3 separate regions of the Homo sapiens genome follow, and regions 2 and 3 are each linked to region 1. Evidence: fine-mapped expression QTL. A gene starts in region 1. Each other region holds a variant in brackets. All regions are shown on one strand. Distances are from middle to middle.

What was found. PIP is the estimated chance that this variant, and not a neighbour inherited with it, causes the effect.
Region 2: its variant is the best candidate, but not a certain one, in a credible set for the expression of THUMPD2 in unexposed skin (GTEx, PIP 0.88).
Region 3: its variant is the best candidate, but not a certain one, in a credible set for the expression of THUMPD2 in tibial artery (GTEx, PIP 0.54).

Annotation. Positions count from the first base shown.
Region 1 is chr2:39,774,099-39,785,177 of GRCh38, forward strand. It overlaps THUMPD2 (THUMP domain 2 tRNA and snRNA guanosine methyltransferase), which reads right to left and starts at 5,160. Exons shown (of 10, transcript NM_025264.5): 1 at 5,016-5,160. The coding sequence starts at 5,141.
Region 2 is chr2:39,725,939-39,737,017 of GRCh38, forward strand. THUMPD2 (THUMP domain 2 tRNA and snRNA guanosine methyltransferase) reads right to left here. Exons shown (of 10, transcript NM_025264.5): 10 at 10,123-11,079. The coding sequence ends at 10,797. LOC124905994 (a long non-coding RNA gene) reads left to right here and starts at 11,057. Exons shown (of 3, transcript XR_007086294.1): 1 at 11,057-11,079. It also overlaps a transcript of TMEM178A not described here. The variant T/C (reference allele first, on the strand shown) is at 7,309.
Region 3 is chr2:39,737,862-39,748,940 of GRCh38, forward strand. THUMPD2 (THUMP domain 2 tRNA and snRNA guanosine methyltransferase) reads right to left here. Exons shown (of 10, transcript NM_025264.5): 9 at 6,509-6,617. It overlaps LOC124905994 (a long non-coding RNA gene), which reads left to right. Exons shown (of 3, transcript XR_007086294.1): 2 at 3,036-3,128. Among named protein-coding and RNA genes, the nearest start is that of THUMPD2, 36 kb to the right of the region's middle. The variant T/G (reference allele first, on the strand shown) is at 5,382.

The DNA.
Region 1 (11,079 bases):
TAAATGTGGGTGTGTGTGAGTGTGCCAGGCAATGGGATGGCATCCTATGCAGGGCTAGTTCCCGCCTTGTGCCCTGAGCTGCCAAGATAGGATCTGGCCAGTGAAAACCCTGGAATAACTTAACTGGAACAGTTGGATAAATAATTATCTTACTTGTTTTTATCAATCTTTCTTAAATGTATGTATAGATTACATTTATTTCAATGTTTAACATTAGAAGTGTTATTTCAGCGTTTACTATCAGAAGTGTTCTAAATAACCTATTTAGAAGTTTGTGAAATTTTTGTGACCAGAAATATGCTATAGGAACTCTTGTTTATTTCAATTAGCCTATGGTAAAAATGATTTAATTATACATCCTTTTGCTTGAAGTCACAGTTTCCAGGAACCTACGGATGACATTAAATGAGGACTTACTGTAGTTTAATAGATTGTAAAATAGTACTCACTGTGAGAATCAAATAATCCTATCTGTGAATGCACTTAAACAGTTCACTCTTTGTGAAGATAGGTATGATACCTTAAAATAGTAGGGAGAATGAATTTTGGTGCTTATGACTTCAAAAACTGCTGAAGCTACTAATTCTCTTTTTCTTTACTGCTTGTAACTGTTCATATTTAATACAACACTCAGAGAAATAAGGCATTTGGAATATTTCATTCTCATGTTTCTTACCTGAAAATTTATTTATATATACAATCTGTTTTTTTCTATCTAGAATGAAATCATAACCAAGTATCTAAAAACAGCTGGTTTTATGTATAACACTCCCGAAGATGAAGTAACAGCCTTGATTAATAACAGCTCTATTATCTGCTAGCATATCTAAACAGCATTTTTCCTTTCTTTTAAAATTCATGGATTCAAATTTAACACAAAGATTAAAAGTTCAAATCTAGGCTGAATGTGGTAGCTCATGCCTATAATTCCAGTGCTTTGGGAGGCCAAAGCGGGAGGACTGCTTGAGCCCAGGAGTTTGAGATCAGCCTGGACAACATGGTGAGACCCTGTTGGTACAAAAAGTAAATGAGCTGGGCACAGTGGCATATGCCTGTAGTCCAAGAGGCTACTCAGAAGGGTAAGGTGGGAGGATTGCTTGAGCCGGGGAAATCAAGGTTGCAGTGATCTGTGATCACGCCACTGTTCCCTAGCCTGAGTGACAGAGCCTGATCCTGTCACGATTTTTTTAAAAAGTTTAAATCTATGCAAAAACACATCATGATATAGGGAGGTACCAAAGGTCTCCTAATTCTACAGATGCCATTTAGTTACAGAATTAATTTGAAAGTGCTACGTGATGGGTTAAGGTGTTGTTTGAGTTTGTTTTGGTTTATTTTAGAAGAAGGAATTCAAAAATATGTTTCACTTAATTTGTAAAAAGGGCATTCAGCTGGGCATGGTGGCTCATGCCTGTAATCCCAGCACTTTGAGAGGCCAAGGCGGGTGGATCACTTGAAATCAGGAGTTCAAGACCAGCCTGGCCAACATGTTTAGCAGAAACCCTGTCTGTACTATAGATACAAAAATTAGCTGGGCACCTGTAATCCCAGCTACTTGGGAGGCTGAGGCAGGAGAATCGCTTGAACCCAGGAGGCGGAGGTTGCAGTGAGCCAAGATTGCGCCACTGCACTCCAGCCTGGGCGACAGAGTAACACTATGTCAAAAAAAAAAAAAAAAAAAAAAAAAAGAGGCATTCAATCTAAAGGGAATGCAGAAAATCTTTAAGGCAACCTTATGCAATTATTCCATTAAATGAAAATAACTATGGAATAACTTGACTTCCTGCTTAATTCTACCCTATTACCCTCGACTGTGATGCCACCATTAAAAAACAAAAATTTATGTGGCCTATTCAGGACCTGTGTTAATAGTGTTTGATATGTGAGTTTATAAAGATCAATGAATCAACTGACAGGACTCTTCTGGTGAACTGACATTAGAGATATCTCTACAACATTCAATTTTATCTTAAAATAACTGATCCTACTACTAGTCTTACAATAAATAGCAGTACTTAATAATACATTAAACATCATTATGAAGTAAAGCTTAATTTTTCTCAATATATTACTTTCTTCAAAGTAGTCTAAGTGATATGTGTTTGTAGATATGTAAATTAAATATTTAACATCATCCAGGGACTTATGAAGAAATTTGCCATACAACGAGAGGGGAGAAAAAACATCAAACCTGAATCTGACCAAGTTCTAGATAAAACTTACAGAATTCCAACTTACAGGAAATACAGAGGATAGAGGAACATGTTAAACTACACCATAGAGACTCAGTATACTATTTTTTTTTTTTTTTTTGAGATGGAGTCTCACTCTGTCACCCAGGCTGGAGTGCAGTGGCGCGATCTTGGCTCACTGCAACCTCCGCCTCCAAGGTTCAAGCAATTCTCGTGCCTCAGCCTCCCGAACAGCCGGGACTACAGGTGTACGCCACCACACCTGGATTTTTGTATTTTTAGTAGAGACGGGGTTTCACCATGTTGTCCAGGCTGGTCTCGAACTCCTGACCTCAGGTAATCTGCCCGGCTTGGCCTCCCAAAGTGCTGGGATTACAGGCATGAGCCACTATACCAGGCTGGATTCGGCATACTATTTTGTTTACTTTTGTATATTTTTGAAATTCTCCATGATAAAAAGCTAAAAAGAATACACAGGAAATTTTCCACTGCAAACTGTGTGTTGGGAGTTCTCTGAGAGGGGAGCATGTTTTCATGTTAAAATGGTAGCACCTGGGCTTATCAGCCACCCTACTAAAAGAAAACCTTTTGGGGCTGGCACCCAGAAATACTCATTTTCAACAAGCTTCCTCAGTGATTCTTATGTTCATGAAAATTGGAAAAACACATTAAAATGAAGTGATTACTTTCTTAAACAATCATTCTTGAATTAATCTGTTTTGTAAATTTACATTTTAGAGTGTTAATTTCCTTGATGCGATCCAAAGTTTCTAACACTCTCTTATCATTGAAAGAATGTTTTAAGTATTCCTGTACAACTCATTGTATGGGAACTAAAATTGAGCACCAACTATTTGTTAGGCAGCATGCTACCTGTGCTATCTTTATTTCAGGGACTGCAGTAATCCTTTAAAGTAGCTATCATCTCTATTTTACATCCAAGAAAATTGAGGCTCAGAAATTTGAGTAATTTGCCCAAAGTTACAAATCCACTAAAGGAATATATAAGATCTGCACACAGGTCTTTTGATTCTAAAGACCATACGTACTCTACCGTGGTGTTACAGAAATAAACTACATCCAATGTTCCAGGGAAGATTCCCATGGTAATTTAGCCTAGTGGTAAAGCACATGGGCTTTAAAGCTAGAGAGACTCAGAGACAAGTCCCAATTTTCTCTTTTTTTGGTAAAATATGGAGGTAAAAGTCTATCAGATAGGAGTCTTTTGAGGATTAAATCATAACATGCACATAACTTGTCTAACATTTTAAGTGTTTAATAAATGTTAGTTGTCATCACTGTTATTTCAGGATTGCCTTAACTTTGAGAGTTCACTTTGTATCAGAGCAACTTGGGTGGAATTTCAGAGATTATTTGTTCAGATCCCATTTCCAGACCTATCTATCTTTCAAACATACAAGAGCAGAATATGGAAATTCCCAAATCTACTGGCATTTAATTACTCCCACTGTCAAAAAGTTTTCCCTGTATTTAATTGAATTTTCTTCCTGGTAATAAAGTTTTCCCCATTTCATTTGTCTTTAGAGAAGATGGAGAACAAGCAGAGAGTCTTTCCTTTTTCTAATAATCCTACATATTAATTGGGCCAAGCTCTCTCTCTCTTTCATACCAAGCACTCTAAGTTAGCATTTAAAAAAACAAGCCAGCGCACCCCTATGTCATGGTCATATAGTGGGCCTGGTTTGAACATGATTATATACTCATTCTTGATTTCCCAGCTCGGGTTTGAATCCCATCTTTGCGATTTTCTAGTTGCATGACTTGAATAAATTCTCGGACTTACCTGTGCTTCATTTTTCTCATCTGTTAAATGTGGAACACCTACCTTATAGGGCTGTTGTGAAAAGTACGCAAATAAATATAGGGTAAAGATCTAAGAACATGTGCCTGACACATATTAAATGTTCAATAAATGTCAGTAGTTATTATATATTGATGCTTTTTAAGATTAGCTACATTCAATACTCTATTAAATTCTGTGACCCAAAACACAAGTGGCAGGTAGTCTAACAAAACTGACATAATTCTTCACGACTCCAACCTTTCACTGCAGAAACTCCTTTTGTGGGCTTCCCACACTGTAGGAGCTGCCAGGGTGGAGGGGTTAATTTCATTTAGGAAGCTCTCCTTTTCCAAGAGTACATCACTCACAGTGTCCCATACACCCCATCAAGATACCTTTTCTATTATACCTTCATCCCCTACTTTCAAGAAACCAGTTTTCAACATTCTAAAACCTAAACCGATGCTTAAAACCTTGTTCATTTCACAGAAATCAATAACAGATAACTATGAGGCCTGCAAGAGTATATTATTTTTCTGGCTGCTATTTACTGCGTGTTTAAAGTGTACTTTGCATACGCTATATAATTTAATTCTCACAACAATCCTATGTAGTCAAATACAATCACTGTCAAGAAACTAACAAAAAGTCAGGTAACTGAACTTGGAGATTATGTTTGCATTTAAAGAGCGAAGGGTTCTAACTCTGACAGGCCAGATTCTAATTACAGGCACTACTTACTACTTTAAAGAATCCAGGAAATAACTTGCCTCAACACCTCTCTTAAAAACTTGAGCCCTGAGAAGTGAGGAACTGGATTTGCTATACAAGGAAAGAAAGGAATGGTGGCTTCTCTCGGCCGGAGCGGAAGCGCCTGCCAGTCAACCTCGGGGGTCGGCGACCGTCGCGTGGAACAGAGAGGGGCGCCAGCGACGCTTTCCCGCGTCCACGACTGGGGTGGGCAACAGGGCAGGGACAGGGCCGCCCACCTCCCCAGGCGCGCAGCGAGGCCAACTCACCTGCGTGGCCGCCAGCCGCGCCCGCACCTCTCGCATTACGAACGGCTCCAGGCCGCGACCCGCAGTGCAGAAGAATCGGGCGCCAGCCTCAGGCCCGGACCCTGGCTCTCCACGCGCCTCCGACATGGCGGCTCAGGCGCGCCCTCGCGCCTTCGGGTCACGTGGCCTCGGGCGCGAGCGGCTCGCTCCTGGAGGCGGCGCGCAGGGGCGTGTGATGCCAAAGGGGAGAGGGAGAGGGAGAGGGAGAGGGGGAGGGGGAGAGGGAGGGGGAAGGAGAGGGTGAGAGAGACGGAGAGCCTGGGAGGGTCGCATCAGCCCTCTGTGGCCCCTATGGGTCTTCCTGGTTGACCATCTGTCCCCTCCTTGATTAGGCACCAGAATGGGTTAGAATCACAGGTGGAAGGGTTAGAATTGATAATTCAGTCCAGTTGCCTTATTTTGTAGATTGAGGAAATTAATGCCCAGAGAGGTCAAGAGACAGCGAGTTAGCAGCACAGCTGAGGCTGGAGCCTAGATTTCTCCCTATCTAACATAATGCCTTTTCCTCCATTCCTCCCAACTCCGTCCTCTTCCTGTCCTTCATTCCTCTCCTCTACTCTTCTCATAGAAGGAGCCCTGGTCTGTTTTCACAAAGAATCGGGCCAAACGTTGGAATCTCCAGGACGGAGAGCAGAAGTTCCTGTTCTCTAACAAACGTCTGCGTTCTGAAACAGCTCATATTTCTTGCACTACTTAGTTAACCATCCAGCCATAGATGAATCAATGTGCCATCTAGTTTTGGGCACCTGATTTGAATGGTTCTCCTAACGGTATTTGAAGGCATTTTTCTAAACTCTGAATTTTAAAATGGAAATGAAAATATTACTTGGGAAGCATAGACAGAATCCATGTTACAAGATAAACAGCGTGAAATTAGCTCTGTAGCTGTATATTGAGTCAGTTATACAGAAATGATAAATGCATGTGTGTCTCTGACAAGGGGCTGTCCTGTGCTTCAGAATGGGATGTTAAGGTGAAGAACTGATACTCCCTCACCTCCCCCGACACTCCCACACACACCCCCGCCCCCACCCAGCTCATGCTCTACTGGGCCGTACAGTAAAAATTCTTCATGGAGTCACATAACATGAGCTTTTCCAAGGTTCAGTCCTAAGACTCTTCTGATGCTGCTTTTTATTTTTTATTTTTTGCGACAGGGTCTCCCTCTGTCGCCCAGGCTGGAGCGCAGTGACGTGATCTTGGCTCACTGCAGCCTCCACCTCCTGAGCTCCAGTAATCCTCCCACCTCAGCCTGTCCAGTAGCTGGGACCACAGGCAAGCCCCACCACACCGGGCTAATTTTTGTATTTTTTGTAGAGAAGGGGTTTCACCATGTTGGCCAGGCTGGTCTCGAACTCCTGAGATCAAGCGATCCGCCTGCCTCGGCCTCCCAAAGTGCTGGGATTACAGGCACCCAGCCCTCACACACTACCGTTTTGATGAATTCTTTTCTTGCCCTCAGACACATGTTTTCCTTTTCTGGGCTACTGCCGTAGTTCATTTTAACTTCTCTATACTTTGGGGTTCTGACTGTCAAGTCTGTCTGGGGAGGACAGGAACCCTCTTTAGTTCTCTCTACATTCTGTGCCCAAGATGTTAAGTATGCAGATAGGATGCATTCCATTCAGTTCAACAAATACTGAACACCTATTCTCCGCCAGTCACCACCCTGTCTTGAGGATTCAAAGATGGGTAAGCAAGGGTTTGGACTTCAAGGGCTTAGAGGATGGTGAAGTTGAATGACTCACTGAGGACATACCCGGGAAGCTATGACAGCACCGACAAAAAGGAGGCAGGGAGGGCTTCCTGGACAAAATCGCTCTTGAGTCCAGCATGAAGGATGTGTAAGAGGGAGAAGCAGCAGATGAAAATGAGACGGCGTGTGGGGGGTGGGGAACAGGAAAGCCACGATAGCGGTTAAGTGTTATTAGAGCATAAAGTATATGAGTGGAGTAGATAGAGATGCGGTAGAGCGGTGGGTAGGGGCCCAGTTATGTCAGTACAACCAAAGGCAGCTGAAAAAATGAAATGACCTATTCAGTCCAGCACCGACCAGCAGTGTGCTGGCCTGGGTGAAACCACAGCTGAGCTGAGGCTGCAGTTTTGCAGAGCCAATCGATCTTCCCCTTACTTTCTCCTCTTTCTTCTGATGTCTTTTCCCCTCCAGGAGCCTTTGGTCAGCAAGGTCGGGGCTACTCTTGTTTCATATGTGGGAGTCATGTGCATTTGTTCCTTTTGAACTGTGCTGCAGTATGTCAGCTGTACCAATGCCCTTCACAAAATGCTTGCAGTGCGATGGAATGGGGGAGTTCTGCCTCTTTAGGGAGAAATTAGTTTCGTTTTCTGGTAAGAGAGTTGCCTGGAATTCTCTCCCCCATTACTCAGGTACTCTTTTCTCCATCATCTCTTCTTCTTTAAAAAAGTCTCTTCTGAAAACTATGGATCCCTATAGACAAATTTAGCATATCCAGCTGCAATTTACTGTTCGAATATTACATATTTCAACATGTAGGAAATTGGAAGTCGGCAGGAACAATTTTAGAATGGACAGACTTTTAAGTGGAGGTGTTTTAAGAATTTAGGACAAGAATATTTGCTTTGAGATAGCTCCCTATTTTGGTGCCACTGGCAATTCTTTTAGTTCTTAAAGGTGTATGATGTATATACTTATATATTAAAATGCAAGTGCTATAGATTGTGAAATCCTTGAGGATGGGATGACTTCATCTGGGCATCTGTAGCGAGAACACTGGCTTGCCTGTGGTGGCCTCTCAAATGTATGCCAATAAAAAGTAACTAAATGAAAGGGCAACTAAGGAGGCCCCTCTCAGGAGAATTGCTGTAACTGCCCTATCAGCAGGGGCCTTTGCAAGCAGGATACAGGAATAAGGGCAATGTAGTGAGGCCAATGAAGTAGAGAAGTGAGAGCACAAAGGGGATAGGAGTACCTCCAAAATAAACTTCTTCACAACTTTCCTTTCTAGTTCCTCTCTTCCTCACTATCTCTTCTTCCTCCCTATACACTTTATAAATAATGTTTCTTACCCAGGAATACTCCTCAGAATTACCTGAGAAGTCACCAGTGTCAAGCTTGCCACCCCACTCTCCTGTATTCCAGTACAGTTGAGTAGGGTTGGTGACAAGCCTTGGCCTCTTCTCTCCATGAGATGAAGAACCGTTGCTAGATGCCAAGCAATTCAAGTGCTAACGTCTTCAAAATGCCCACTACTTCCCTTCTCCCAGGCCTCTGCTTATATGGTTCCCTTTGGCTAGAGCGCTCTTCTCTTCCTTTCTTTCTTTTTCTTTGAGGATAAGCTAGAATGCCACATCTTCTCTGGTGTACTTTCCTGCCTTTCTTGTACCCTTTTATGCAATATTTTATACCTTTATCATTCATTTATTCATTCATAAATATTTGTTGAGTTTGTGGCAAATGTGCCAGTTAAATGTTCCAGCCTTTGAGAAACTTTTAAATCAATGGGAGGTAATGGTGACAGGGCTGAATTGCTGAGATGGGCATATAAAGGATGACAATACAGTGTCATATATGGGAATAAAATGAAAGCAACTGGGCCCAGCAACGGTAGCCACTTAATGAAGTTGAATGAATGAGCTTATTCTGAAGCTGAGTAAGCCTTTGTCATGGTTTTGGTTTCTTATCTCCCTTTGAGCACCATATTAGCCCATTCTTGTACTGCTATAAAGAAATGCCTGAGACTGGGTAATCTATAAAGAAAAGAGTTTTAATTGGCCCACTGTTCCGCAGGCTCAACAGGAAGCATGGCTAGGGAGGCCTCAGGAAACTTACATTCATGGGGACAGGGGAAGCAGGCTTCTCTTAGATGGCTGGAGCAGGAGGAAGAGAGAGGATGGGGAGGTGCTGCACACTTTTAAGTAACCAGATCTCATCTCACTCACTGTCGTGAGACCAGCAAGGGGGAACTCCGCCCCCATGATTCAATCACCTCCCACCAGGCCCGTCCTCCAACACTGGGGATTACAATTCGATATGAGATTTGGGCAGGGACACAAATCCAAACCATATCTCTGCCAAGTCTGGGGCATCATCCTTCTGATGGGCCCCACCCACCTCCACAGGTGGAGCCTTTTTGCTAACCAGGGCATAGTCATGTGATCTAGACATTACCAGTGAGCCTCACGTGACTCAGAAATGAGCAATGTGGGGGAAAAGGCTCTTTCCACAATTCATTTTACTTCCTGGGGTATTGTTGGGGTGTCTGACCTTCAGGAACAGCTTCATGAACAGGATTGAGTTCCTGAGGCAGAAGTGGAACTGCTGGGGGTGGTGGTAGTAGTGGCAGCAGTTAGTTTTCTGGTCAGGCCAGTTTCTGAAAGCTTAGCTTCCAGATTGGTTTTCCAGACTGCCCAACAAATGAGTCATACACACACACACACACACACACACACACACACACACACATACACACACACACACACGCACGCTTTACTTTGCTTAATCAGTTAAAGTTAGCATCTATTTCTTGCAACAAGGAATCTTGATTGATACAGGCATCCACTCTTCCCAGGTAGGAGCAGCTAGCTTGGTTTGCTTCTCTCCCTGTGATTTGTATTAGCTTGGTCTCTTCCCCCATTCATTTGTGAGCATTGCACTGTGGAGGTATGATGAACTCCTGCCACGTAGCCCCACAGAGTAACTTGGAAAGAGTAGGATTTTATAAATTTTATGGAATTCAATTGTGTTATGGTATTGTGGTAAAACCACAGATACAGACACATGAATCTGTCAGACAGACACATTCCAACCAAGTCAGTATAGATTGTGAAAAAGAGAATCTACATATTTTTACGACTGCAAGTGCAAGCCATTTGGGAAAAAACTATTGGTCACATACTGATCCTTTAAACCACTTAAGTACACACAATAATCATCTTGAATGGTGCTTCTTTGAACATACAATCAAAAGGAGAAAATTCAGCAGAACATTTCATGGTATATGTAAATACTGTCTTTAAAACAGTATTTGCTAATTAGTGTTTATAGCACTAGTTTAAATGTAGAATCAAAATTCAAAAGATACAATCTTTATGCTCTGATCTGGAGAGATAATTCTTTTTTTATATGTTATTTTTGCTTCAGATCTATAGTGCATGAAATTACTTTGATATACAAGTATAGTTGACTATTTCCAATGTCTTTTCTGAAAAGTGTGGCATGTATTTAATGCATATTTCAAGACATGAGGCTGTTTGATGTGATTTTGTTTAAATATATTTTGAGCTCATAAAACTCAAAATATAGACCTAATGATGCCCCAGTTGGAAGAGAGTATGGATATTATTTCTTGGATATATATGTTGAATGAATGAATGACTATATCTGCAATTTTCTTCAATTTACTTGAATCAACTGTAGTGACTAAATAAAGCCATTTTCTTTTTGCAGTTATGTTCACCTCCCTCAGACTATTGTTTTAATATTCCTTTTCTCTTGTTGCATTCATGATAATATTGACTATGAATTATTATTTTCCTTAGAGGTTTGCTATTACCTAACTTTTTCTATTTCTTGGTACAAAGAAAGCCCCAGAAATGTCCAACATTAGCTAGGATACCTATGTTTTGATATTTATCCTTTTCATTTTCCTGTATGTCTTATTCCATTTTAGTAGATGGTCATTTATTTTGTGTATTTTCTTAGTGGTAACTGAAAAAAATAATTCCCTCAAAACTCAAGCAGATGTGATCTGCAAATAAAAACAACAAAGGGTTAGCTTTTATTTTCTCAAAAACACAAATAGAGTACCTTACTTCATTATGAATGGTATTTGGCAGAATAAAATCTGAAGAGTTTATTAGAACATTGGCTTTATTCAGTCAGTATTGCTCCTGTCGTTGGCATGAAGGAAGAGTAGACTATGGAACAAGCAGACTTACTTATTACATATTTGTCTTTTTATATTTTTCTTTTTGTTGAAGAGTGATAATTACTTGCTGCCCATGGATATCTTGCATGATTTTGAAAAATGGATTTTAGCACCGTTGA
Region 2 (11,079 bases), 48 kb before region 1:
TCATGTGTTCTTTGATTTGTCACATCTCTATAGAGCACCTAGTATGTGCCAGAGACTGATTTAAGTGCAGGGAATACATAGTGAATAAATCAAAGCTGCTGCCTTCAAAAAGCTGCCATTGTAAGGTGACAAAGGAAAAAAGTAAAAAATCTTCCTTCAGGGAAAGATAATTTGTTCTTTTTTCCTTTGTGTCTGTCTCAGAGAGACAGACAGTAATAAAACAGGGCTTGTGCAGTAGGTGGTGGTGATATGTGCTATGAACGAAAAATGAGGTGGCTAGGAGAATAGAGTGCTAAAGGTGAGGGGATGGCCAGTTTAGGGAAGCTGGCGTTGGCCTCTCTGATAAGAAAACATTTGCACAGAGAGCCTGAGCAATGCAGGTGTCCTGAGGAATGTCCAGGAAGGGTAGATAGCAGGTGCAGAGGCCTGGGATGGGAACAAGCTTTGCATGTGGCAGGGTCAGCAAAAGGTAGAATGAAAGTGAGAGTGTTGAGATGAAGTAAGAGGGAAACCAGGCTATCCAGCACCCTTTGAACACCTTTCCAATAAAACCCAAGACTTCGGGTTTCATTCTGAGTAAGATGGAAAGTCATTGGAGGATTTCAAACATAAGAGTGATAAAATCTGGCTTACAGAAAAACAGGCAAAATACCTTTGGCCCAGTGAATGAATTGTCCTTGGTTTCCATGTTAATACCCAGAGGCCAGTACTGGGCGTTTAGGTCTATCTGGCAAAATATATGGTTAATGTGCCCATTCTTCCAAGGTGAAGTCAATCTCACAAAGTGTAGGATACCAAGGGCAAGAGTCACAAAAAGGCAGCTAGCAGGGTGACCAAAAAATGGTAGAAATAATGTGTAAGGGTTGGGGGTGGGTAAGGAAGGGCCCTGGAGTAATTGCTGTCATTTGTTTCATCTCGAGCAGGCAGTTTCTCACTGAAGAAACTTAATGAAAACTGACAATATTAAATGATTGTGGCATTCAGATGGCAAAATTACACTTCAAATCTCCTGACTCTCTTGAACATAATTCATGGAATTTAAGATAAAAAGCTGAGCTCTTCATGCACGTTTTGAGTTGTTTCTTTAAATTTCCAACAATCCATAATTTTTCTCTCAAATGTTTTCCTCGACTCAGCTCATTTTTCTCTCTGCCGAGGTGTTCCAGAGAGTGGTTTCATCCCTCCATTTCCAAAGGTCAAGGATATTCCTCTATCTCAGAAGCCCGGACTTCTGGCTGGTATCCTCTTGCTCCTGCTCACATCCCTTTCAGATAGCTGTCACAGCAGCCATTCAGGCAGGGCCAGTTTACCAAGGAGCATTCCCAGAACCTGACATGGAGCAAGTACTCACTAACTGCCTGGTAGCTAAGTAAATAAAGAAGCAAATGAACAAATGAATAAATAACAAGATTTGAAAAGGCTACTAACACTATGGCAAAATATGAACATGCACTAAAAAAACTCACCTGGATTTCTTAATTAGCAAGATTTCTCTAAGACTTTGCATCTCACCTAATTTTAGTCCAAGGGCTTTCTTGCATAGCTCTCTGAACCGACACATTTACTTAATATCTAAGTGAGCATTTCTTCTCAAACCTCAGTTTATTTTGAATCCCTGAGACTTAGCTTTTTTATTTTTTAATTATACTTTAAGTTCTAGGGTACATGTGCACAATGTGCAGGTTCGTTACGTAGGTATACATGTGCCATGTTGGTTTGCTGCACCCATCAACTCATCATTTGCATTAGGTAATTCTCCTAATGCTATCCCTCCCCCAGCCCCCCACCCCTCGACAGGCCCCGGTGTGTGATGTTCCCCACCCTGTGTCCAAGTGATCTAACTGTTCATTTCTCATCTCTGAGAACATGAGGTGTTTGGTTTTCTGTCCCTGTGACAGTTTGCTGAGAATGATGGTTTCCAGCTTCATCCATGTCCCTGCAAAGGACATGAACTCATCCTTTTTTATGGCAGCATAGTATTCCATGGTGTATATGTGCCACATTTTCTTAATCCAGTCTATCATTGATGGACATTTGGGTTGGTTCCAAGTCTTTGCTATTGTGAATAATGCCACAATAAACATATGTGTGCATGTGTCTTTATAGTAGCATGATTTATAATCCTTTGGGTATGTACCCAGTAATGGGATTGCTGGGTCAAATGGTAATTCTAGTTCTAGATCCTCCAGGAATCGCCACACTGACTTCCACAGTGGATGAACCAATTTACACTCCCACCAACAGTGTAAAAGCATTCCTATTTCTCCACATCCTCTCCAGAATCTGTTTCCTGACTTTTTAATGATTGCCATTCTAACTGGCGTGAGATGGTATCTCATTGTGGTTTTGATTTGCATTTCTCTGAGACTTAGCTTTCTAGGTTACACAGGAAGTCGGTGTCTCCCTGGACAGCTGTCTGCTTCTTGAATGGTTTCCGAGTGTCCCTTTGATTCACTGTTCTCAGATCTACAGGCATTTATTTATTCTCTCCTACCAGGAGCTAGTTCAATTTAGTTCAAAAAATATTAATTGTTCTTTTCTGGGCCACACTCTGTACCCTATTCTGGAGGAGGAAAAAATGCTATAAAATAGTACTCCATTTATTTGACATCCTCAAATTTTCATAAATTTTCAAAAACTTTATAGTTGTATGCATTTAATATTAAAGATATTTTAGCAGAGACTAAAATCATGATTTAATTCTGCAAAGTACACCGAGATCATTAGTACTGCTACCTCTTACGATCTACATCACTGTCACTCACTTCAAGTCAAGAAATGAATTTTTTTTTTTTAACCCATCGTTTGTTGCATTTTGGTCACAGAGTCCACCCCTACACGTTTTTTCTTTTCTCCTAAAGATGTATGTAAGGCTTAGGCAGATGATGACAAAGACTGTATTATTCAAAATCTTTGGGAGGCCAAAACATTAAAAATGATTTTGGAGAGGGGTGCCAAATACTGATAAAATAGACAACTAGAAAATATGGTAACAGAAAAAATGCAAAACATTTGGAGGGACTCCACTGAGAATGAGATGTGCAGAGCCTGCAGGGCAGGAGAGTGCTTCAGTAACCTTGGTGTGTGGCACAGCGCCCCCAGCTGCAATCAACAGAATAACTCTAGGTTGTTCGGCAGAAAAGGAATTCATTAAAAAAAAATTAGAATGCTCAATAGGGCCAGAAAATTAATCTAGGGGACTACACAACCAGGAACACCATCCAAACCATACAACAAGATGGTAGTTTCAAAGATTCACTGCCACCCCTGCCGGGGATCCACACCATAGCTTGCACCATGGATATTGAACGCTGAATGCTGTCCTCTACCCCAGCTAGCCCCTGAGGCCAGATGCTTCTGCTGCCTCTCCCCCAGAAAGTGGATTCCATGGTGCCTGGTTCCTCCGCATAGCTCACATCTGAATCCAATTATCATATGTCAGTGTCTGGCCCCCATTCTACCTATAATATAGGTCGGAAAAGCTGGTGTTCTGGTTTCTGCCTTGGAGAGGTGGGACTCAAACATTGGAAAATACGATAATTCACCACTTTGATGTACCCTTTGGATGCCCAACATCAATATCTGTTCTTAATTTGATATTTAAACTTCCTCCAACCAACCAATATTCGCATGTAAAATATGCAATTATACTTGACAGAAAAACCTGCTCATCCTCTCCCCTTCTGACAAGGGTAACACATCCATGTCAAGAACATGATTTCTGGGTGGCTTCCATTCCTCCTCTAGTTCCATCTGATATTCTGTAAGTTAGGGTTTAAACTATGCGATGGAAGTCTTAAATTGGGAGGGAGTTGAAAGTCATCCTACTCTTGACCAATGGGAGACAGGAGCTGGTGGATATTCTCCTCTTTTGCTCCTTAAGCAGACAATTCTGGGTTGCATCCTATACAGGTCTTCAGAGGGGCCCTACAGGATCAGATCCCAGCTTCTCACAGTGGTGATCAGCTCAACAGTGCATCCTTGGATTACCTTTTTCCCTATTTCTCTTTTACTCCTTCCAGTCCCCAGCTCCCAAAATAAATTATCTCCAAAAAAACCTTCGTCTCATCTCGGGTCTTGGTAAGAACCTAGGTTAACACTGGGTTCTAGACATACCTCTCTCTGATTACTAGGAACAAACACTCCAGCCCACATAATTCAACCTGTTTATGTGTTTCTGTCCAGTGGAATCAAGGACCCAAAATAATTGGGTGGCAGTCTTACCTCTTAATTCAATGGTTTCTTGTTGTGTTTGCTGACAGAAGAAATCCTCTCTTGGGAATGATTTTGAAAGGAGGAGGGTTTCCACGAATGACCCTGGGTGCTCAGAGTGGATTAAATGGACAATGAGCAGCTGGGAATTTGGGGGCACCTCTTTTCTCAGAAAAAGGGGCTGACTACATTCAAGCTCAGATTCCCATACAACTGGTGGTTTTCCCCTTGCCTCTCCCTGGCAGGGAGACTGTAACATATCATGTGTCCCCAAGATCACTAGGTCCGTCAAGTTTCCCACGTGCAGGGCAGCTGGCTTTCTAGACAATTCCTGTAAAGAGCTGACAGACCAAATCCAGACTGTCTGGCACCAAGAAGCTTATGCATTCCCCTAGTGAAAGCTCCTTTCTCATGGTTGCCCTGTAAGAAAGGAGACCCACAGGCTGGTGGCAGTATTGGTGGTGGTGGTGTGGTCGTTCGTTCTAACGTAACTGATCTTTCCATGAGATGGAGAGACCAATGGATGGTATGGAATATGTCTTGACTTTTTATGCAATAGCAGACAGCACTGAAGGTTTCCATCTGGAACAAGAGGCATTGAGACCTCTAAGCCAGGGAGCCCAGACACTCTAGTGATAAGATGCAAACATTTTAATAGCGTAATTAGGAGTGATATAGTAACAGGTACCACTCTCACTTTCAGCTCTTGGGCTCTTTATTCTGACTATGGGAGAAATAGCACCATCTATTGGCTGTTGGTTCATAGCACACAGAGTATCCTGTATGGAGACATCTCATCTTCTCAAGGAGTTATCTTCCTGCTGGCACAATAACTGGGTGTTCAGTAAGCCATTCCATCATGCCGTAAGGCCTTATGGTGAGACAAGAAATCCCATGAGCCTCAGTCTCTTGTCTCACTGTCATCCCTGTAAAATAAGCTCTTTAGTGAGAAGCACTGTTACATGGAAATGAATGATAGTGAATAAGGCAATTTGTTAAGTTCATGGAAGGTGTTGTTGGCATAAAGAATCCAAATACAGAGTAAATAGTTATTCCAGTGAGGACAAATTATTGCCCTCTTCACAAGGGGGAGGGTCTTCAATATAATTCCCCTCCTGTTTGTAGTTGTTTTAGTCCATTTAGTGTTGCTATAATAGAATACTTGAGACTGGGTAGTTGATAAAGAAAAGTTGTTTATTGAGCCCATGATTCTGCGGGCTGAGAAGTTCAAAAGCATAGTGCCACATCTGGTCAGTTTCTGGTGAGGGCCATGGGCTGGCTCAAAATATGGCAGAGAAGCAGAAAAGTGAGTGGGTAGGTACAAAGAGAGCAAGAGAATGTCTAGGAAGCAGAACTTCTTTTACAACAGCCAATCACTGGTAACTAATTTAGTCCTGGGAGAGTGAGAATGAACTAGCTCCCTCAAGAGGGCATTGATTCATTCATGAGGGATATCTACCGACATGACCCAAATACCCCTACTAGGTCCAACTTCCCCAAACCATCACGTTGGGAATCAAATTTCAATGTGAGCTTCCAGGAGGACAAACTCAAGCTACAGCAGTAGTGTTATATTAAGTCTCTCAGGGTTGGTCACTGCTGCTGGAAATTAGTCAGCAGTGGCAGTGGCCACATCTTGGCGAGAAGTCCTTGTTGGGCCAGTGCATTGTTTCTGTCTGTCTCTGCAACCATTGTCTATGGGGCCACTGAGCAAGCACCAGGATGGCTGGGGAAAGGGTAGGGCACTGGGCAGGCAATCTTCCAACTACATATTTAGAACCTCCTACACAGTATGGCCTCTTGAGACCATTCCAATAGGACAAAAATATTCACCTATATTGGGGTCTAGTATAACATGTCCATCCACATTCCTCTTCCCGAGACCTTATTTCATGTTCCTGACCATCCATCTAAACTGATACTCATGAGGATGACATGTTGAGGATCTGCCTCTCAGGCCATCTCTCCTTCCAGGAAAAGTGTATAATGTGGACTACTCCAAGTTCTGCTCCCTGGGAGGAGAACTTCCCCACTTTCTTTCCTGTCTTTCACCCTGAGTGGGGCTGCAATTAAATTCCCACAGGTGCCAGCAAAACTTGCAGAGTCATCTGTAAGCCATATTTGACTTCTTTTCTCCTTGGTGAACTGCTCACTGGAGACTCCTCATGAGACCATGGCTATGAGGGAGGGGTGAGTGTGGCAGGAAGCACACTGAGAGGAAAAAGCACTGACTGCCCCTGCAGCTCATGAGTGCCGTCAGCCATGTGGAACTCAATGCTGATATATACCGCTCCCATCTGATGAGGATGTGCTGCTGGGTTGGGTCCATGCGACTTTTGGCTTGGCGTGTCATTACTTCAAGATGGGCAGCTTAGGTCATATGGTCACCTAGTGTCCCATGGTCAAGCCCTCAGAAGCAAGCCCCAATAGCAAGTCAAGAGTTATTTCCAAAAGGAGAATAATTAACTTGCATAGGAGAGCTTGGCTTTGCTCCAAAAGCTAAGATGCTGCAGCTGTGCTTCCTCTACTGGGATTTGCTGCAGGCTTCACACACCCTCCAGGTCTGCCCCAGTTGCTCTGAGCACCATCAGATCTCCTGGGTCTCTAAGGGCATTAGGGAGCTGCTTACAGTAGGGCTGGTGCAAGTAGAGAGCCATCTCTTAGCCCAGGCCTCAATTAACAGTAAATGAGTCAGAGCAGCAAATCCAAAGCTCATGTAGGCTGCCTTCAGATGCCACAGAGTTCCATCAACATCCGTGCCTTTCTTAGTGTTGGCACTAACATCTGCAGCTCCTACAAATATATGGTATTGCCTTTGTTTATTTCGGTAAGAAGGGGAACCTAAGGAGTGTGACATCAGCCCTTCCAAAAATCTATACCCTTACTCCATGGATCAGAAAGCCATTATGGGTATTCTGCAATTGCTGAGGGTAGCTATTCCAGCTATAGACTCAGACACTGGGTAAGTTACCGGATGGTTTGTCACTGAGAAAGTTGAAGTAGTTGAAAGAGAATTTCCACAGTCTACCACCACCACATCCGCCCACCTTCCAGCATCTGCTCCCACTTATAATCTGTTCTCTTACAACACGTATT[T/C]CTGTAATAGGCATTAAATCGAATATTGCTAAGTAAGGAGATGACGTCACTCTCATGTGGAAATTGGGTTGGTTCATACATGATTTTTTCTTTTTAGCATATTAATGCTTTGTGTCACCAGACAGGAGCAGCTGAACGTGAAGGATGCCAATGGAATGAGTTGAACGAACAAGGTGCGGAATAAGGCTCTTTATATGACGTCCATCATCACAGGCTTTTTCTGGTTCATCTTGGCCGCAGGTTCTGCCTTGGCCAGGCAGACAGTGCCTGTTGTGTAACTCAGCATCTCCTTACCCTTCTTTATGCCTAGTCTATCAAGGTGACATTGCCCTTTTCTTGGAAAGGTGAAGTCCTTATTTACTTACATATTTATTAGGAATATAATGTCTTAACTGTGCCAATATTTTCACTAAGATTGGTGTTTCTGTTAGTGTTCAGGTTGCAAAATTGGATGTTTGCAATGGTTTTCCCCAACCAGAATTTATGTTTCTTTTTCATAAATTGTTATTTTTAGTGCATAAATTTGAGAATGAAAAAATTTTTAGGAGCATATTTATCATACTATAGCTGAAATGTCTGTATGCTGTCTTCCTACCCGTAATCGTGAACAAATTATCATGCTCCTGTCTAAAGCTAATTCCTCCAATTGTGGACTGCATTTTATCCCCTTATTCAAGGACGTCGCTCTAGCACTTAGCCCTTTTTTCCTATTTCATCATCTTTTCGTCTTTCCTGGAATTCTCTTTAACATAAAAAAAAAGCTGCTACTTCTCCCAACAAATCTTTCTCTTGCTTTCACACTCTTTACCAATCTACTACTCCTATTTCTTTGCTCACCTGTTCTGCAAAACTAGTTGTAAGAACTGTCTATGCTCACTATCTCCAGCTCTTTTCCTATTTTTTCTTAAGCTCACTGCAGTCTGGTTTTGCTCCCCTTCCATTCCACCAAAAGCCCCATGGTCAAGGTCATGAATGACTCCCTCACTGCTAAAGCCAATGGTCAATTTCCAGTTATCTTACTTGGTCAGTTAGCAGCATTTATAGGGTTAAATACTCCTCCTCTATACCCTTTATTCATGTCTTCCAGGCAACCACACTAGGTTTTCTTTCTATTTCACTGGTTGTTCCATCTCAGTTTTCTTTGGAGTTTCCTCTTCTCCTGCCAACCTCTCAGTATGGGAGGAATTCAGGGCTCAGCCCTGGTCTTATTCTCCTATTCCCAATCCTTTGGTGATCCCATCCAGTTTCATGCCACCTAAATACTGAAAATTCCCATAATGTATCTCCAGAGCAGACCTTTTTCTTAAAGTGCAGACTCACATATTCAATTGCCTAATCAACATCTCCACTTTGTTTAATGCATATTTCAAAATTAGCAAGTCTAAAACTGTCTAGCAAGCAAGTCTAAACAAGATCTGCTAGTTTAGACTGTCTAGACTAGTCTAAATTAGAGTGTCTAGACTAGCAAGTCCAAAACAGAATTTCTGATATTTCTCACCAAACCTGCAGCCTCTGCAGCCTTTCCTCTCTTAGTTGATGAAAACTCTACTGTTCCAAGTTCTTGGCTAAAAGTCTTCAGTCATTCCTGTCTCCTCTCCATTTATCATACCTCACATCTAACACATCAGTACATCCTTCTGGTTCTACTTTCGAAATACATCCAGAATCCATGTGCCTCCTACCAACACGACTGTTACCACCCTGGGGCAAGCTACCATTTTCTTTTGCCTGAATCATTGCAAAAAACTCCCAGCTGATCTCTTTACTTTCACCCTTCTCTTCCTACAATCAATTTGCAATATAGCAGCTACAGTATCCTAAAACATATGTTAGGTGACATCACCTATTCAAAACTCTTTCAGTGGTTTTGAGTAAAAGCTAAAGCCCTTAAAATAGTCTTCAAGGCCCCATCTCATCTAATATACCACCTCTACCTGCCACCCATTACCTTGTTAACCTAATCTCTCATCCTTTATCCGCAGTATCCACTATATGCCAGGAGTATCTCTCTCCTCCTTCAAGTTGTGGTAATCAAAAATGTCTGCAGACATTGCCATATGTCTTCTGAGGACCAAAAATTGCCGCTGGCTGAGACCCCTGCTTTAACCCAAGGAATAAGGACTACAGAAATCTTGCTTTTTCTTTGAGTTGTCAAGTTCTACCAAAAGCAGATAGCCCGCCTCATAGGGCTCGTATTCCTCAGGTTTTTGGTGTTTCCCAGAGCATCAGGTAAGCACAGGCATTATGAACTGCTTCACCATCACATGCCATACACTTTCTATAACACTAGCTGTATTCTCACTGCCTTTAACCCAAGTAGGCCAGATACCGAGTAACGAATTCACATTACTGGGGGCCTCTTGCTTGAAACCCCTCAGAGTATCAGTCTCCATTATCAGAGTCCCAGCTGTTAACAACACAACCACATTTACTTAGTTTTAGCAAAAATGAAATGTATTCAAGATTAGTAGGTGGCTCTTAGAATTTCCTAGGAAGGCCAGAGAGAGAAGCTTAGCGGTGGCTACGTAGCCAAGAGCAGTGCTGAAACCTCAGGAGAGGAATGTTCTGGTGAAGATCGCTTTGTGTTGCCACTGGGCACAAATGCCATAGCTTGCACATGGGTGGACCTGATACCAGGGGCCCAGGTTTCCACACCCTGGCTGGAAAACAGATTTTATGACTTCTGCTTTGGGGAGCTGATTCACAGGGTGGAAAATTACCCAAACATAGCAAAGTTGTTCAAATACCACTAAAGCTGCCAATAAGTTGAACAATTGTATCACACTATTGAAAAACATTAAACCAGAGCATATATTCTCCTCAAACTTACTGTTTCTTTTTCTCAGGTAGTGAACATAAGCAACAAACTGACTTTCTATATAAATAAGGGCGAGGTGACAGTGTATGAATGCTTTTAGAAAAAAAGCAAATTTCATTTTCCATCATGTTTTGAAGGATACTGGCTTAATTCAGTTATTATTCTCACTGTTGGTTTACATAATAAACATATAAAATGTATTGCAAATACAAATTATTTTCATTCCAATGGAGAAGAAAATTACAGGCTCAAAAATCAAGTTTAATATCAAAAGAAGTTACACATAAAGGTTTTTACATTTCCGAAAATCTGATAGTTAAAATATCCCGTCTGGTGTTGATTGTGATACACTTAAGTGAACCCCTGAAAACCTTTATTTTGAAATTGAAGTTTTTGCTCAGAAACTGGGCAGAACTTTTCACATTCTGACAGAAGATAAAACTTAAGTCTAAAAAATATTCGATAACTTTTTTCTCAAAAACATTAAGTACTTTAGAATATAAAGCAGAAACTCTTACCAAGCATGTGTACCCATCAGCCACACCTCCTGTCTTTGGGGGAATTTGGTTACTTGGAGCTCTGTGGGTGCTATATGAATCCTAGAGACAGCAAACTTCTGCTGTACAGCTAACTTACAAGGGCCTGAACCCGGCTGATGGCAGCAAGCCTGCTACAGTCCAGAAGAGTGCGACTTCTTATATTTACATATGAACGCATCTGTCTTTCCAAGGCTAACTTTGTAGCATTCCACTGGTACCAAGGAGCCAAATGGTGACATTCTGTCTAAGAATTTGTGGTTACTGGCTTCGAATGAAGTTGACGCTGTCTTGAATGCACCAGTTTTTTCTTCAGGATTCAAGCACTTTTTAATTCCAGGTTCATCTGTGTGACTGTCCTTGGAATTGAAAGGGATGTTGCTCTCTTTACAATCTGTAAGGCGCCTGTGGTGATCT
Region 3 (11,079 bases), 36 kb before region 1:
GAGGCAGCTCTGAAAGCAGCTCAGTGGGTGGGTGAGTCACAGCGGGTGGGAAGTGGAGGGAGGAGGGGAGTAAGGAGTTCAGCTTGGAACGTGCTGATGTACCTAAGGAACACATAAGTGCGGATTCCACCAGAGAGCTGGATACACAGCCTGGAGTAATGGAAAAGACCAGGCCTTGAGGTAAAGATACAGTAAATGGTAGCTAAAGCCATAATGGTGGATGGGATCACCTGGGGTGGCAGTACAGGTTGAGAAGAGAAAATGGGACAGGGAGCAGAGATTTCACATTTAAAAAGTGACGGAGGAGAAGACCCATGAAGTAGACATCCTCAGAGAAAATCTGGACAACAGTTATGTCAAGGAAGCCAAAGAAGTACAGTTTCAAGAAAGAAACAGTTTCAACAGTGTCAAATGCTATAGGGCCGGCATGGTGGCTCACACCTGTAATCCCAACATTTTGGGAGGCTCAGGTGGGAGGATCGCTTGAGCACAGGAGTTTGAGACCAGCCTGGGCAACATGGCAAAACATGTCTCTACCAAAAAAATACAAAAATCAGCCAGGTGTGGTGGCGTGTGCCTGTAATCCCAGGTACTTGGGAGGCTGGGATGGGAGGACTGCTTGAGCCCAGGGGGCAGAGGTTGCAGTGAGCTGAGATTGCACCACTGCACTCTAGTCTGGGCAACAGAGAGAGACCCTGTCTTTAAAATAAAATTATTTTTTACACACATACATATGTAAAAATATATATATAATATATATTATATATTTACATATAAATACATAATTTATATACATATAAATTATATGTATATATACACATATATACATATATAAATTATATATATATGTAAAATAACAAATGCTATAGGACTAACAGGTGATCAGGATTATGAGAAATCAGTGAACCCAGGGACAGCAATCCTAGCTGAAGGCAGGAGCAGATGCTCGTCTGCCAGGGTAGAGTGGGGCTGGAAACTGAGGAAGCAGAGGTGTCAAGTGTAGGCCATTATTTCAAGAAGTTCAGCTGTACAGGAAAAGAAACAGTGGCAGCTAAAGGACCAAGAGTTAAGGGGAATCTGCCTCATGCCCAGCAAAAATCTAAGAAGCTTAGGTAGCTTTCCCTAGTCTAATCCATCAGCAAAGCTAGACAATTCTGTCTCTAAATTGTATCACATATTTGTCTACTTCATTCATAGTTTGCCTGGACCACAGCAACAATCTGGTAGACAGGTCTTGTTTCCATTCTTGTCGCCCCTCCCACTCTGTCTTCCGTTTCCACACAGAAGACAAATGTAAATTCTTTGCTAACTCCTCAGTTGCTTGCACTGTACTTCAAATACATTCTAACCCCCTTACTCTGGCATCCAAGGCTCCTACACAATCTGACCCTTACCTACCTTTTTGATGTCACTGCCTGCTTTCTTTGCTTACTGACCTTCCTTCAGCTGCTCAAACTCACCAAGCTGCTTCTCACCTTAGGACATTTGGAATTGCTGTTCACCCTGCGTTTATCACTCATTCTTATCACTCACGCCCCACAGTCAAATATCACTTTCCCAGAGAGGCCTTTCCTGACTACCTAGCTAGGGTAGCCACTACTTTTCTCTCACTCTAAAGCAAAACATTTTGTTTTATGTCCATCACAGTACCAGTCATGATCTGACATTATCCAGTTTGTTTACTGATTAACCATCTGTCTTCTCACAATGAATGGTCAGAGACCTTGCCTGTCGTATTCACTGCTGTAATCCCCGGGGCCAAGTACATGCAAGTGCATGGGAGATGCAAAGACTTCCAAACGTGTCTGGGGAAGGGATAAATGAATCTCCTGGAAAGAACCGGCAGATGAGTAGGCAGAAGATAAAAATGAGAAGTGGGCAGAGTGTGATCCTTGAGGAGGAAGGAACTGAGAGGATAAACCCTTGCAGGAAGAGGGAAGCCTCTTCTACTGAGCAAGGAAGAAGTGGATGGGAAAATGAGTACTCTTGAAGACAGAAACTGAAGTAACTTTTTGGGGCAACAGTTTAGCAATCATGTATCAAAAATATGAAATGTACATAACCTTTGACCCAGCAATCTCACTTCTAGGAAATTATCCTAAGAAGATGTAATAGTAGTAGTAGTAGAATAACAGTGATAATAATGGTGATATAGCTAATATTTATTGAGTACTTAATATGTGCCAGGCAGTTGGATATGCTCTGTATTATGTATCATTTAAACTTCAGAATTATCTTTCTAAGTATGCTCTATAACACTGTCATTTTGCAGATGAAGAAACTGTGATACTGTGACTGTGGTGCTTGGTCATATAGTTAAGTTTGAAAAACCATGCAAGGATGTTCAAAGAATAGTTCTTTTTTAAAATAAAAAATTGGGGATTATCTAAATATTCATCCATAAGCACTGGTTGCATAATGGTACATACATATAATGTGGCAACCACTGAAAATTATAATGTATATTGTAACAACTGATCAGAAAGGAGATTCATGACATTGTTGAGTAGAAAAAAAGCAATGCTACAGTACATTAAGGACAATCCTATTTATGTAGAGTAGTAAACATGTATCCTTTTGTGCATATGTACATGACAAGATGCCTAACAGGACAGTCACCATTTATTGTAATTTTGTTCAAATAATGGAGAGAAAGTGAAAATCACCTGAAATCCTGCTACTCTGAGATGAACATTTTCCATAAATGTCCTTCTAGGCATCTTTCCATGATCATACGCACATAATTTCTTTTCTTTTCTTTTTTTTTATTTTTTTAGAGATGGGGTCACTCCGTCACCTGGGCAGCTTGATCATACCTCAAGCTACTGGTGTCACCTAGTTCATATACACATAATTTCTTTTCTTTTCTTTTTAGAGATGGGGTCTCATTCTGTCACCCAGGTAGCTTGATCGCAGCCCACTGCAGCCTCCAACTCCTGGGCTCAAGCGATCCTCCTACTTTAGCCTTCCAAGTAGTGGGACTGAAGGTGCATGCCACCACACCTGGCTAATTTTTAAATTTTTTATTTATTTAGAGATGAGTTCTTGCTATGTTGTCCGGGCTAGTCTTGAATTCCTGGCCTCAAGTGATCCTTCCACCCCAGCATCTTGAGTTGCTGAGACTACAGGTATGAGCTACTGTGCCCAGAAACACATAATTTCTTACTATGAAAGCTATTCAGAATTATAAAGCAATGTTTACCAAATTGTATTCCTTTGAACACTAGTGTATCAGTGATGATAATAATAAGAATACAATATTACTATTTCTTAAGAAAAAACTCTGCAGTCAGTAAGTTGGGGGAAGTCTGTATCAAACAGCATAAGAGATTTCCCTTTCGTATGTGAACCTGAAAAACTAGGAGTAGATGGTACAAATAATCTTAAATTATTTGTCCATGGAACACATTAAGTCTTAACCACCTACTATAAATCCTTTGCTCCAGGCAGTCTGGTATACTCATTGTTCCATGAACACACCTCCTGCTGTACTGCTCACTCAAGAAATACTTAATAAACATCTGTACATATAAACATGATGTGGTCTCCTTTTCAATTCTGTCTTCACTTCCAAATTTCACTGAAATCTGGCTTCTTCCTGAAACCATCTCAAGCCTCTTTGGCACACAATGCCTTCTTCCTTCAAGCGGTGCAAGGTGAATTTTTAATTTTGCTCATGTATTTGCACAGTTACATTTGAGGAGAAAACTCAAATGTACTTCTCTGAATTCCTGACAATGCTCTGTACCCATAATCCTTTAATACATTAAAGGAGGAAATAATTGAGCTGAGAATGCATAGCTCATGCCACCAGAGTAATCATTTATCTGACAATCTTTAATTCTGATTGCATGTCCTTTCTCGAAGAGTCCAGCTCTGTAGTACATACAGTACTATTTCCACTGCCTGTTATGAACAGGTTTGTTGTATTTTCATGAACACAATTTCCTATCCCTTCCATTTTCTATCTAGGGCCTTAAACTATCAGTAAACCATTGGGATAAAAATTATGTGTACTCCGATATATTTAAATATATCCTCACACACTTCCCAAAAGGATTTTCAGTGGTATACACTAAAAAATCAGGTAAGTGATAACAGATACTGAGTAAGTTCTAGGTGGCCAGCACTGTTGTAAGAGCTTTAAATCCACTGACTCAGAACAATGCCATTAAGTGGGTATTAAAGATAGGCAAGTGGTTAAGCAATATGCCTGTGACTGAAGAACTATTAAGTAATAGAGCCAAGAGTGGAACTCAGGTAGTCTGTCTCCAAAGCCTATACTTCACCACTATATTATGCCACACTGCCTGTATAAAACTTCAAACCATAAAAAAAACAAAAACAAAAGTCAGACATAAAGGTTGGGGACAGGTGGCAAGGAAGCTTGGTCACAGAAGGAAAAGTCCCTTATATCCAAATACATACACTTTAAACTGGTCCCACTGAGGCACTTTAGTTTTGCAGGAAGTCAGGAATATGCATTTTCCTGATTCTTAAGTATTTAAATATCACAATGTGACAATGTGAGGGCTGTCACATCTATTACTGTCTCATTTTCAATCAATCACCTGGAATAAAAACCAAACCCATCCTAGAGAAAGTCAGGCTGGTATAATTTACTAGGCTGAAAGAACTGTCTACTCATAATACTGCCCTCCACTGACTTGTAGAGGTGCTATAATATGCAGCATTAGATTTTCAGTTAGAGTAAGCCACCATCTCTCTGGAAGCTTCTAGGTTAAATGTAAATCGTTGCTCACACATTAGTATCTCACCATGAATTGGTTAAAGGTATAGATGCAGATTATCTAGTTAGGTTCAAAGACTGCAGTCATTAACTCTGGCTGCACTACAGCATCACCTTGGGAGTGTTTAAGAACTACCAATGCTTGAGTCCTCCACCAGATAAATTAAGTTAGCGCCTTCGTGGGGAGGGGTGGATAGCAGGGATCAGTATTTTTTAAAAGCTCCTGAAATGATTTTTATATGAAGTCAGGGTTGCCAAATCTGCTCAAGGTGAATGTGATATTGGGCAGCAGGGAGTACAGGTGCTCATGAAATGTCTGAATTATAGGTGCTGTCCAGAAGGAGAGGTCTCAGGTAATATTTCAAGAGTTAGGCAACTGGGTAGCAGGGAAAGTTGCTTAGAAATAAGATAATCCCTAAAGAAGCATGGGACACTCAGCTCCCAAAATGCAGTGAGATGACTTTTAGTTGAGCTTAGACTAAGTGTCAAGATTTAATTTTCCTTATAGAATGTTAGACTTGACCCTGATTTTTCTCCATCTAAAACACATGGCTCATATTTTAAATTGGTGACCCATTATTTACATAGCAGGCTCTTGAAATGTGTGTTATCAAATTCCCAGCTAGACAAT[T/G]TAGTATCAACTGACCTCTTATATTCATGTCCATTCATAACTGTATGCATTCTATGTTCTCTTCTTCACCAATTTAAACCATTAGAAAAATGCATATCCATGACTCATTGTTTCAATCTCTCAAAGGAATGCTTCCACTGAATTATATTCCCTTAGGTCATTAGAAACCATAAGATGAATACTTTCACATTTTCATTTCAGAGCTGCTATAGTTTGGATGTTTGTCCCCCTATACCTCATGTTGAAATTTGATCCCCAGTGTTGGAGATGGGGCCTAATGGGAAGTATTTGGATTATGTGGGTAGATATCTCATGAATAGATTAATGCCCTCCCTGTGAGGGGTGATAATTGAGTTCTCACTCTATTAGTTCCAGGGAAAGCTGGTTGTTAAAAAGAGCCTGGCACCTCCCCCTTCTCCCTCTTGCTTCCTCTCCTGCCATGTGATCTCTGCACACCGGGCTTGCCTTCTGCCATGACTAGAAGCAGCCTGGGGCCCTCATCACAAACTGAGCAGATAGATGCTGGCACTGTGCTTCTTTTACAGACTGCAGAATCATGAGCCAAGTAAACCTCTTTTCTTTACAAATTCTCTAGCCTCCAGTATTCCTTCATAGCAACAGAAAATGGACAAAGACAACAATAAATAATAAGGTGTTGCCCATTCTATGTTATGGAAGGTTCCTTATTTAACAGAATTCTGTTCTGTTGTTTAGTAGCAGAGTGATCATAAGAAAGTTAATCTTTCTGTGCCCCAGATTCTCATCTGTTAAGTGTGGGGGATTAACACAGAGAAGGCAGGTTTTTTTTTTTTTTTGTGAGGGATGGAAGCAAATATGTAAAATTTTGCTTCAGACCACTGACTGAAATATAGGTCACTATTTCATACATTCAAATCTCAGTACATAATAGAAAATTAATATTTTTCTGAATAAAATTTATAGTGTAAGATGATATGGATAACATTTATTTCAATTATAAACTTCTGACTTAAAACCTTAGAAAATTAAGCTACAAAAACTCTGGGAAATTGCTAAAAAGCAATCAGACCTTAACTGAAGAGCTATGATGTATTTCGGTTAAATGCCCAGTAGCTAAAAAAATTATGAAAATAAATTCAACAACTTACCTTTCCATTTCTTGTAGAATGCTTTTGATGTCTTTTCCTAACTTAAACTTTTTCCCAAATGGAATGTCAGAAATAATAATATCAACACTTTCTGAAGGCAATGGCAATTCTGAAATATAGAAATCAGAGAATCCTATTACAGTAGGGTCAAATATTTACAACTTAAATAATGAGAAAATTGAAGTACACAGGATTATTTTTGCGTAACAGATTAACATTTAGGGTTGCTAATATTGTTTTAAAGTAATTACAAGATCCCAAAATGCTTTCACAATCACTAATGATAAATGATAGTTATTGTATTCTGTTCGTTGAAAATTGGTTTTTCAGATACAATAAAATGTAAGTTAAGCAGAATTTTACATTAGCCAGAAAACTCAATTCTCTAAATATATAGCTTGTATAGAAAGCTGCTAGCTCCACTAAATTGCCTAGAAAAATCTTCCACAAAATTATATTCTACAACTTTCATTTCCCATTTTAAAACTGTACGTTTAGATCTACTTGTTTTTGAGGGAGAGGATCCATAGCTATCATTGTATTTTTAAAAGAGAATTTGGAAGGTTAAGAATATCTATTAAGTCCTAAGACTAGAGAAAAGGCTACATAATCAATAATCAACACAATGATTATCACTAAAAATTATTGTGTCTGATTAATTCTAAATTGCTTTATCTTAATGTTTTCTTCTCAGAAGTTACGTTATCAGAAAGTAACACAGTACACTCTACCCTAACATCCACATCTTCTAGATGTACTTTCCACTTTTTACTTATTTTACTTCTCATCCATCTCCTAAATTCAGTTAAATACTCATAAGACAGATGTCCCAATTTTCATTTTGAATAGTACCTAATTTTGCAGAAATGTAATGAAATTTAAATAATCTTCACTAAATATCAAAAGTTTCTGTTGGTAGGAAATTTAGCAACAAAAAGTGCTTTGTAATCTCGGAAAGTCTAATGACTACTTGCTAGATCTCTCCTAGTTCTAACCCTTATGTGGGGTTAATAGAAGAAGAGTAGATTGTTCGAAAAAAAGAAGGATAATATTCTTTTAAGCTGAGACAGGAATTCCTTTTTTCCAAGTTATGTTTTAACCTCATGGTTTTAGGGTGTTGATATAGTACACATCCATTTACAAAATGACTAAAGACAATAAATAGACAACGAAGGCAACCATAGTTCTCAAATGTTTTATTTATGAGGAAGCATGTAGTAATTTACTTTTGAATTTAATCCCAAGTCTTTCTTTTGCCTCACACTACACACACAGTACCTACGTATGAGTTAGCTGCCCATTATGTCCAGGTTTAGAAACAATGATTTTTTTCTTCTGGGTCTCCATTTTTATTGGGAACTTTGCTGCTCTATATTATATAATATGCTAAAGTGCTTTAAATAAATTTAGAAGTTGAATACATAAACTTCATATAGATGGAAGAGAATAATTTTTAAAAAAAATCTCCAGAACTAAGCAGTGTCATCTTCCAATAGAGCATAAAATAATCAAAGCTTTTCTTGATGTGGTTGAGAGCATAAGCTCTGGAGTCAGACAGCTTGCATTTGGCTCTGCTGCTCACTAACTGTGGGACTTTGGGAAATTACTGCTTCAGTTTCTTCATCTGTAAAATGGAATAAGATTATGTACCTCAGAAGTCAATAAAAGAGGTTAATATATGGAAGACATTTAGAACACGGCCTGGCACAAAGTGAGCATTCAGTAACCGTTAGCTGCTTTGTGGTCATTATTTATAATGTCCCTCTCTGATGTAAATGGGAGATGACAGCCAGGTGGAAACCAGTGCGCCATCCTTCAAAAAAGCTTTGCAGAACACAGTAGTATCCCCTTCTCCCTCATTCTTGGGCATCCAAGGTTGAGGTAGGGCAACTACTTCCAGGTGGGCCTCTCTCCTGCTCTCCTTTCCTCTAGCAGTGGTTCTCAAAGTGTGGTCCCCATAGCAGTAGCATCAGTATCATCTGGAAACTACAACTTAGTGCGTATTAGAATCAACTGAAAGGTCTTTGTAAAACAGATTGTTGTCCCCATCTCCGTAGGTTTAGATGCAGGTACTCCTAGAACCATGAGCACCTGACCGATACGATTCAACATACAGTAAAATCTTTTAAATTATTAGATGCTTTAAATACTGCTTGTGAACAAAAAATTTGCTTGTAACTAATCAGCTAAGATTCTGAAATAGAAACATAGCTCAAAACAAGTAAAAATCATCTTTTTACATCTCTGCAGGATGATTCAAGAACATGAAAAAAAAATTTAGTTTTAAAATACCAGTTGTTTTGAAGAAAAAAACTGCCCTATTTTTCCTACTTCCAGGAGAAAAATGGGTAAAAATTTCCTAAAACTCAGGACTATGGCCCCAAGATACTTTCTTCCAAAGGGATTTATGGGCCTTCAAGATGTCTTTTCATGCATATATTTAAACTAAAGACCAGGTTCATTGAGCACTTTTATAAAACTGAACATATCCTTCTTCCTATTTTTGTTCCTTGTTCTTTCTGTTTATTGTCCAGGTTTATAATATTCATATTCTGTCTCCTAACAGTAATTCCCATAATTGTTTAAACTTAGTTCTACAGTTAAATTAATTTCATCCTTATCACTAATCATTTTGCCTTGATTTTCTCCATTTCTCAGCCAATTAATCTCTTAATGCCTGGATTAAATACTTTTCCCCAAAGGACTTAGTGTGAAATGTTGTCGGAACTTTTTCATATTTCAAAATGTTTGTCCTTAAGATGATGTTTTGGTTAGGCATAATATTTTTGGGTTACACTTTGCTTTGGTAACTTTGTAAATAGCATCTCAGAACCTTGTAAATAACCACTATTCTATTTTCAAATGCTCTATAACATTTTATTGTGGCCAAAATATATTTTGAGGTTTATTGCATTAGATTATGACCTTCTCTCGTTTGGTTGCTGAATTTGTTTTCTTTGATGATTACTATTCTTTTTCTCATTTCAGTAAGTACAAGAGGGCGTAAAGCTTTCAATGAAATTTTGATCTGTCATCTTAATCAAGAAGTCCATAAACATTAGTCTTAAACACGCAAAATGTAGTCTGACATCTGGATTGGGTCACCATACAGTTTATAGTCCAAATGAACATTTCTGAGAAGAGAATGCTAGAAATAACTATGCTCTTTATTTTATATGAAAATTATATGCTTTGAAATATTTGAAATATTTATTATCCAATAAATTGGTTTATTATGGTGGCCCTGAAAACGTATCTGTGCAAAATGAAATTTTTAAGTTTAATAAAAGACTTTTTTTTGAGAAAAAATAATTTGCCTACAGTGCTAATATCTGAACAAGTTCTAGTAAATGAAATATACTTTCAGTTCTATTTTTTCATATGGAAAGGGTAAATATTTCAGCCTTCCAGTTCACAGTCCCTCCATTGACAGTGCCTTTGACAAATATGTTTACAAAACTCAAATTATCTCTATTATTCTTTTAATTGTTTTACCAAATTTAGATGATACAAAATTAAGGCCTTCACAATTTCATTCCATTCCATTCTAGACTACAAATTTATCCAATTACAATAAGGAAAGTCATCAGGAGATTCTTTCCATACCATATCCAAAGAATATTTATAGAATTTCATAATTAAGTCTTGTGCATTGTTGAGCTTTCAATATTTGTTCATTTCTTCGTGTTTTTAGGGAAAGATGATCAATGTCTTCCTGCTGCCAGCTTTAACAACTGTAATTCACCAAAAAATTCAAAAGCTAATGTATTTTGGCACTTCATTTGTTGAATCCTTTGATTATAGATTTCCAGTATATTCTGAATAAAATGCCATCAAAATTAGGCAACTTTTTTTTGGTAAAGTTTATAGCACCACCCTAGGACACTTTGGCTGATTTACAGAGTAATTCTTTGAAGGCTTACACTTTAAAACCCAACTGATGGACAAGCAAAGAAAGTGTACTGTTATGCAGAAGCATTTTTTTTGCATTCAGTCATCTTCAACACAAATAGTTTGCAGTTCATCTGTTCTGTGTATATTTTAAAAAGAAGGCCGGGTACGGTGGTTCACGCCTGTAATCCCAGCACTTTGGGAGGCCAAGGCAGGTGGATCATGAGGTCAAGAGATTGAGACCATCCTGGCCAACATGGTGAAACCCCATACAAAAATTAGCTGGGCGTGGTAGCATGCGCCTGTAGTCCCAGCTACTCAGGAGGCTGAAGCGGGAGAATTGCTTGAACCCAGGAGGCGGAGGTTGCAGTGAGCCGAAATTGCGCCACTGCACTCCAGCCTGGCGACAGAGTGAGAGTCTGTCTCAAAAAAAAACAAAAAAAGTGGCCAGGTATGGGGTGGCTCACACCTGTAATCCCAGCACTCCGGGAGGCTGAGCTGGGAGGATCATTTAAGACCAACCTGGGCAATACAGTGAGACCCCATCTCTATTTTTTTAAAAAAGAAAATTAGCCAGGCATGGTGGTGAGTACCTCCTACAGTCCTAGCTACTTGGGAAGCTGAGATGGGAGGACTGCTTGAGCCCAGGAGTTCGTTCAAGGCTGCAGTAAGCTATTATC